3 separate regions of the Homo sapiens genome follow, and all the other regions are linked to region 3. The links come from fine-mapping of genetic effects on gene expression. A gene starts in region 3. Each other region holds a variant in brackets. All regions are shown on one strand. Distances are between the middles of the regions.

Region 1 (2,765 bases), 290 kb after region 3:
ACATGAACTTCCAAGAACTGGTACTTTGTTACACTTACTCACACCATATCCCAGCAGCACTAGGTATAATGCCCAGGACATAGCAGACTCAATAAGTATTGCCAAATGAATGAATTGGCCTACTGTATTACCTCCCTAGAGCTGCCGTAACAAAGTATATCAAATCAGGTAGCTTAAAACAACAGAAATTTATTGTCACAGTTCTGGAGACTTGAAGTCTCAGATCAAGGTATCTGCAGGGCTATTCTCCCTCTGAGGTCTCTGGGGGAAGAATTCTTTCTTTCTTCTAGCTTTTGGTATTTGCTGGCAATCATTGGCATTCCTTGGCTGATAGCTGCATCACTCCACTCTCTGCCTCTATCGCTGCATGGCCTTTTTTCCTGTGTGTCTAATCTGGTCTATTTCTGTGTTGAATATTCCTCTTATAAGGATACCAGTCATTTGATCAGGAGCCACACTAGTCCAGCATGATTCATCTTAACTTAATTACATCTGCAAAGACCCTATTTCCAAATAAGGTTACATTCACAGGGATGAGGTGGGGGGTGCAGGTGGTTAGTATTTCAACATATCATATTAGGGGACACAACTAAAAATTCAACCAACTGTCCCTATTTCTCTCAGAAAAAGGAAATCTAAGAAGTTAATATTAAAATTCATATATTGTAGTATTTAAAAAGGCTTATTTCTAAGTAAGTTTTATATAATGTACAAACATTTGACTTTGTGTCAAATTACCATTTTACTTTGTGTAAGTACGATAAATTGTTTTGATTTGTTTTAGACTATTTGGTTGAATCCTAACTACACCAATATCAATGCCATCCTAAAAAACCAAGACTATGATCTGACCAAATTAAACTCATGTTCTCTATTCCCTTAGCAGAAGAGAACTAATTTCTTCATGTATTAAAAATAAATGAATATGGAAGCATACTCATGATACTCGCATCTTAAAAATCCACCCCGACATTTTTGCAAAGACTGTGTGTGGGACGTTGACATATTTTTGTTATACAATGACAGTTTTAGTGCAAGTTGTTCCCATTGTGACCAGGGAGGAAGAGCAAATAAAAGGGAAAGAATAAGTTCCAGTACAAACCACATGTGAACTGAAGCTGTCAGGTTCCACAAAGGCAGAAGTACTCTCTGAAAAGGTAGAGAAGTCCTTTTGTGTATGATAGGTGGGGTGGAGGGTGGGAGGGTCACTAATATTGTCTGCTGTATGCTATCTTAGGAAAGTCATTTTTTCCTATCAAACACCACCTTGTGTCTTTTGAACTCCATTAGCACTTTTTTTGTTTTTAGTTTTCTCAAATGACCCTTACGTAATACTTATTGCTTGTACTGTTCTAAGTGCTTTACATGTATTAATTCAATTAATCATCATAACAATTCATTTCCATTGTGCAGCTGAGGGTCAAGGTACACAGAGGTTACATTACATGTGAGCTGGAGCCACAATTCAAGCCTGCCTGTCTAACTTTGGGGCCCACTCTCTGACCCATCTTGCTATACCGCCTACGTAGTTACTGAATTTTGAACTTGTTATAGACCTCTGCCAGACTGTAAGCGTCTGAGAGCCTGGCCACTGTGTCTTTCTTACATTTGTATTTTCTGTAAAGCCTAGCTTAGTATTTTGTGCACAATAGGTACTCAGTAAATGCTTGCAAATGAATTGAAATTAGACCACGATTTGCACAAGTCTATCTAGTGTTTAGGTCTCTGACTTCCATGTCATGGTTT[C/A]AATGAGAAGACGTTCATTTGAAAAAAATAGAATCCCAAATAGATATAAATAATCTAGGGAAGCAGACAAATGTCAGTTTGGGTGCTTCCAGCCTCTCTCATGGGTGCTCTTTTCCTTTCTTCCCTCCTCAGCCCCCTACCAGCTAACTATAAAAGTGTGTACGTAGATTAGGATCTCAAATGATTTCACTGAGAGTAGCTTAAAGTGTTACTCTCTTAAGAACATTTGTGTTTTCACAGAAATTAATTTCTAATAATTTCAGCCATCAGTCAATAAATGAGGGAGGTATTCATTTGAGCAACAGACAGACTCCAGAGTTGTGGAAATTACACCCATTTTTATGTAAAGTATTTCATTTTATGGATTTGTTGGTAACATTTGCACTGGTTTGTACTCTCTCTCTTGCTGTGTAAATATAAGACTAATTAAAAGCAAATAAAAACTTTAATCTTCAATTTAAAATCTGGCAGTACTGAAATATTGTAGACATGTTGGTATTCATTTGCTTGTAGGAAATTCTGCCACTAAGAATTTAAATTTAATTTGCCTTTTTATTATGTGATATGTGCATCACAAGCCTGTGGGCAGTAGATGAGCTTTAATAAAGCTAAAAATAAATAAAATGGGAATGTTAATAAACCTTGTAGCTCATTAAACATTTGGATTCACTGAGTATATATCTATTAATTTTAGATGAGACTACATTAGGAAACCTTTGTTACATGAAGGTTGTAATTAAGTGAATAATATATTCAAATTCAATACAAAACATCTTCTTCCACATCTTTTTAGTGACAATTCTTTAGTAAAAAATTTCAAGGAACTGAAAGGCTTAAAAAGTAATGATTAAATATGCAAATATAACAATTTATAGTTCTTTCTAAAGAATTAAAATTTGAAAGATATGTCCAAATGGATTCTCTTCTTATATCTCATTATCTTCTTTATCTACTTTAGCATTTGTGATTTCATTATTTTATTAAGAAAGTGCTCTCATTTCTTGACCCCGTTTATTCTT
Region 2 (2,765 bases), 110 kb before region 3:
TTAGTTTAGAGCTTAAAATCCTTATGGTTTAAAAGGAAATGATGGCAGAACAGAGACCAAATACAAAAATACCTGTGAACATATGGAGTTGGATAGAATTGTTCTAATTTACTCTGAGGAATGATTTGAATTTGTGTTCTCACACAGCTTGTCAGAATGCTCATGTTAATTTTGTTAAGAATCGACTGCTTTTTAACTACGTGATACTGAAAAGTTTTCTATGATTCATTAAAAACTGATAAGATTTCATTTTGCAATCATTTGTATAACTTGTACATTGTGTTCATTAAATGTGATTAATTCTCCTCTTCATTATCGATTAGCACAGAAGCTACACAATTTTACCACACACCACTTTCTCCTTTTCTTCTCACTTTTGAAAACATATTTTTTGATACTTATATGAAACGTGATATTTATCATTCCTTTCCCCTTTTCCACTGTGGAACACATGAAGGTTTATTACCAGTATCTGAAGTTCCTAATTGGCAGGTTTTTTCACCAGCAGAATGAATGCTGCTGATGTAACCCATCTCAATGCACCTTCATCCAGTGCATTTAACCAGGAATTCTAAGCACAAACAGCGTGACTGCCATGAGACCTTTCCTATCCAGGGCAATAAAGGGCTAGGAAAACAAAGACACATCCATGTCTTAGGCTGATATCACTATCCAATTCTTATATTTGCAATTTCAGTTATTTCAAATCAATAAACTTTAAGAGTATTTAAAACTATATGAAAATGCTGAGCCATGTCTTTTTCATTTCAGCCACAGAGTCCTTTAGGTCCATTCAATTTCTCTTACTTTCAATGAGGACTATACTATGGGTGACAACCAGGGCTATTGCTAGAGGAAAATTGTGCATGGAGAAAAATATATATATATAATTTCTCAGAAGAACAAAGGGGAAGTGGGGTCCAGTGGAATATAGTCAGGAAAACCTGGTCATCATTGCAAACATCTGAAAAATGTACAAAAAGCAACTTGTTCTCTGTAGCCCACATTCTGTTGCCTTTGGTGGAGTCCAGCAGGAGCTCACGGAAGTTAAGTTCTGAAGAATTAGGCCTGGAATGAGAACCACATCTGTACATGGCTCCAGGCACTCTTCCCTTGCACAGTGGCACAGGTTGGCAGTTAGCTCCCAGATAATCTGGTCTGCATGCAAACCTCCCATGTGTGATGCAAGACCATGGCCCTTTATTTGGAGGAAAACCTCAC[T/C]GACTTGGCAACATTTGCCTGTGTGTAATAAGTAGGTCAAACTCCAATATGGTACTATTAGAATGCAATACTAGAGAAAAGAGTGCCAGTCTCTACTGCTGTGAAATCCAGGTTTCCTATCTCTTGGCAGAAGACATTCTACCACATAATGGGGAAAAAGGGAGAAACTAATATCACTAGCCTGGAAAGAATATGTAACAAATAACGGAACTGGCCTAAATAAAAACAGATAGTTAAAATGCTGAAGTTAAATTATTTGTCCAAGATCTGAATAAAAGCAGTCAGATTAGGATCTTTGCTCAAATTCTTGTTCATGTGTAAGGGTGTTTGAAAGTTGCCTTGGACAGCAAGTGAGATTGACTTACTGTATGGGAATTCCCAAATAGCCTATTCCTCCCCTGACACGGTTGTCATTTACTGAGATTGGAGAGTATTCCAGGCTCATTTGGGTTAATGGTCTCTCAACCTTTACGCCTAGCAGGATGCAAGAAAGGTTTACTGTCTAACAATAAAGTTGAAGAATTACACTACGAAAAGTAAGTATCAAAACATTCACATAATTTGAATTGTAACTGATGTGCAAATATGGAAAAAACATGGGGCTCTCTACAATTTTTAAGACAAGAAAAAGTAGTTAATTCCAAGAAGAACACAAAGGGAAAAAAACTGTAATAATAGACAACTACTAAAGTAAAAATATGGAATCTTCTATTTTTCAGTAAATTGTGAATCCAGGTACATAGCAAGTTCTAGGGAAACAAAAGATTAGAAGCAAAAGCCTTTACGTAAATATTTAGATTTCTCAAAATATGAAACATAATAAAATTTTATTTACATGCTATGCAGTTATGAATGACACATATTCCTAAGTGTTTTTCCTAACTGTTGCAGAGCTCAGGCATCAGAGTCAAGGCATGAGTAATAAGTAGAACGTTTTTTCCAACAAAACGGTGCAAAAATATTGCAGAGATAGAAGACACTAGATCAAATTTTTTTCATTTTTATCAAAATGCAAACTACAAAGTTCAAGAAAAACAGTAATAATTGAGCCAAAAAAGTGCCAAGAACTGCAGGTATGGAAGGCTGACTTCCGAAGGTGGAAAGACAAGTATTGTGGAAGCTGGGGTGGGGAGGAAAGGAAGTAACATAGTAACTCTGGACACACAGGGGAGCCACACAGGAAGTCAGCTCAGTAAATGGTGTGTGCTGTAGGGAGTAAATGAGCTTGTTTTTGACCTGACCAGGCATTCAGGAATGTGCAGACAGCAAAGAAGCACAGTGGAAAAGGAGCCCATTCAAGGATGAAAATGCATCCTGAAGCTTGGACTCCAAGTCTGTTTTAGAGTCAAATGTGTCAGGATGTTCCAAGAACATCCCTTGGTTGTGACTCTATGATGATCAAGGTGTACTCAGGAATGGCCCAGAATGATTTTTGTACAAGTCACACTGTCTGCTTCCTGCCCTGTTAAACCACACTATCAGCTTCTGAAGATTAGTGGCCAGGTCTGGCTTGTTCACCGTGAGTTCTCTGCTGAGAACTCAAG
Region 3 (2,765 bases):
TTAAATGAATGAATGAAATGTGAAACTAAATCATGGAGTGTAATCTCCTCTATTCGATTTGTCCCTGGACAACCAAGAAGTTACCAAATTTTTTTGATCGAAATATTCCGTGCCCAAAATGTAACAGAAATAAAAACCACACCCAACTCCTAAAATTAAGTTACTTTTAAAGTTATTAGATAACAACAGGGCTTTAGAACATCAGCAGGATGTTCTGCTTTAAAATTGATTTGGCATCCAGGAGACTAAGCCGAGTCGCCACAACAGACTGGCTTGGTAATTTAATTAGAGTCTTCTGGAGGGACACATTATATCATCATCCCCCGACAGTGTTCTCTTTAGGGACCTGATTTTCTCTCTAGTCCTCTCATTCCTTTCCCCTTCCTCACCTCCTCTCATCCCTTTTGTTTGCCCTTTTTTTCTTTTTTTGCTCTTAAAACAGCTCTCCCTCCGTTCGTCTTGTCACTTCCATGCATTTTTAACTCTAACTAGAAATGGGTCACCCCAGGTTTGCTCCCCAAGCCCCAGGGCCCCTCAGGACGAGTGAAAAAGGCCCTGCGGTCCTCCCTGCCTGGGGGAATTCCTCCTCCGATCACAGCTCCGGTGGGCTCCGCAGATGGGAAAGGGTTTCCAGCGCGCGCCTAGCGGCCACAAATCACTTCCCGGGGCCGCCCCGCCAGGCCTCAAACCTCCCAGAGCCGTCGGTCGGCTTTTACTTTAACGAGGATTCAGATGGGTCACACCCTGTCCTCCAAATGCGGGCCTGCTCCCCGGACCCCGCCCAGGGGGCTCGCCCCAGTGCCGAGGCTCCTGGGCAACCCTAGCACTCTGCGAGTCGGGGAAGTGACCCCAAAGTTGCTTCTGAGTGGAGACTTCCGCACGCAGAGGCGTCCCCGCAGCTGCCAGGCTTTTCAGGGGCAGCATCCCCCGCCCGTCAGGAGCCTGTCCTCGGGGCCACCACGCGCCCCGCGCCTCAGCCCCGCAGGGGCCGCACCGGGGCCTCAGTCTGCAAGCAGCCGGGGACAGCGGGCTTCCTCCCCTGCCCGGAGCGGCCGAGCGTCTCGGCCAACCTCCCCCGCGGAGAGCACAGCGCCCCCGCGCAGTCCCCGAACTTCTTCCCGCGTCGGCTCGGGCTCTCGGGTGGGGACGCGGGGACCCCTCGCTCACCGATATCCCCATCGTCGTCGTCCTCCTCCTCCTCCATTTGTAGCAAAACATTCCTGCTCATCTTTTTCATGTCTCCCTCAGAAGGCGGCTCCGAACTTGGCGCGAAGTTGGGGGCTCCCGGGTTCCAGAACGGCGCGGCTCTCCCAGGGGCCGGATCGGGGACCGCGGGGCGTGTGTCGCTTGGGCTCAGGGGCCGCTGAGCCCAGCCAGCGCCGGGGAAAGCCGAGCCGAGGCACCCACCGACCGGAGCCCAGAGCCGGAGGACGCCTCTCGCCTGCCGAGCGGAGCCCGGAGACTGAGCATGCCCAGTGCGGCCGCCGCGGCTCGCTGCGGAATGATTGAACTTCCCCGGTTTTACGAGGCGCGCAGAAGGAAGTCGGCAGGCGAGACTGCAGAGGGAGTAGTGCGATCCTGCGCGCGGGGGAACTAGCTGGAGGGCAAGGCGGGAACACGTGAGTGCGGGAGTGGACTGGGTTCCCTGAGCATTGATCCCAAACAGGGCAGCTTTTCGTTCCAAGGTCGTCTGTGGACACACACTGTGGCTTGCTTTGTTTTAACGTCTGATACTGGAGAGGAGGGAAATGCTGCTGCAGCACAACTGCAGAACCCTGGAAGGCGAACTCGTTTGAATGGCTTTTAAAGGCGACGTGGAGCTAATAATGGGGGGATCTTAAATTACTCTAGCTCCGAAGTGGGAAAGTGGAATCTGTACGGGTAGGTTAAGATTACGGTGGAGTCGGGGTGGGAGGAGAGGCAAAACTCAGAGAATAAGCAAAAGAAGAAGGGGCGGGACGGACGGGAGTGGGGGTGGAGAGAATTTTCTAAATAAACGTGTGCACAAAGGCAGGAGGATTTCCGCATACATTGAGGTCGCGGAGAGTGGAGAAGCGCCCCCTACTCCGCCCGCGCGAGCACACAGGGAGTGGTCGGAAGATAATCGCTGAAGCGTCCAGCCTATTTGTACAATTGAAACTAGTCCTCTGTGTCAAAGAGGGAGAAGAAGCCGAAGACCACTAGAGTTAGATGTAAACTCTTCTAAAGCAATGTGGAAAGCTATAATAAGAGAAAAGAAAGTCGTGAAATAAAATTAAGGCAGAGAGTTTTTATTTTTATTTTTAATGCTTTCCTGGAAACCAAAGGGACCGATAGGACAAATACAAAGGGATTTAGTACTTTAAAGACCCTTGGAGTTGTTTGAACGGCAGGTTTTGGGGATCGCGTGTCTACAAAACTTTTTTCAAAAAAGCTGGTACATTCAGGTTGTTCAATTTTGACTTCTCAAAAGGGCTAGAAGGTATATTTGAAATCTTGGTTATATGTGTTATTGTCTACTCATTGAAATTGTTTATATTTTTTCCACTGAAGTGCTAGGGTTATCACAATAACACTAAATCTACTGTGCATGTTTTTTCTTCCACATACTTTTTTTAAGACGGTCTCGCTCTGTTGCCGAGGTGGGAGTTCAGTAACTAGAACTACAAGCGGAGCACACCACCATGTGGGGCTTATTCTTAAATTTTTTTGTAGAGATGGGTGTCTCACTATGTTGCCCAGGCTGGTTTCGAACTCCTGGCCTCCAGCAATCCTTGCACCTCAGT

The links. PIP is the estimated chance that this variant, and not a neighbour inherited with it, causes the effect.
Region 1: its variant is the best candidate, but not a certain one, in a credible set for the expression of ANO6 in whole blood (INTERVAL, PIP 0.54).
Region 2: its variant is the best candidate, but not a certain one, in a credible set for the expression of ANO6 in skeletal muscle (GTEx, PIP 0.72).

What each region holds. Positions count from the first base shown.
Region 1 is chr12:44,920,182-44,922,946 of GRCh38, reverse strand. It overlaps a transcript of NELL2 not described here. Among named protein-coding and RNA genes, the nearest start is that of NELL2, 45 kb to the right of the region's middle. The variant C/A (reference allele first, on the strand shown) is at 1,747.
Region 2 is chr12:45,327,879-45,330,643 of GRCh38, reverse strand. The region is part of intron 2 of ANO6 (anoctamin 6); the gene reads right to left. Among named protein-coding and RNA genes, the nearest start is that of ANO6, 110 kb to the right of the region's middle. The variant T/C (reference allele first, on the strand shown) is at 1,222.
Region 3 is chr12:45,214,794-45,217,558 of GRCh38, reverse strand. It overlaps ANO6 (anoctamin 6), which reads right to left and starts at 1,464. Exons shown (of 20, transcript NM_001025356.3): 1 at 1,168-1,464. The coding sequence starts at 1,237. It also overlaps the pseudogene PLEKHA8P1. RefSeq lists enhancers at 459-588, 1,599-1,698 and a silencer at 829-1,138.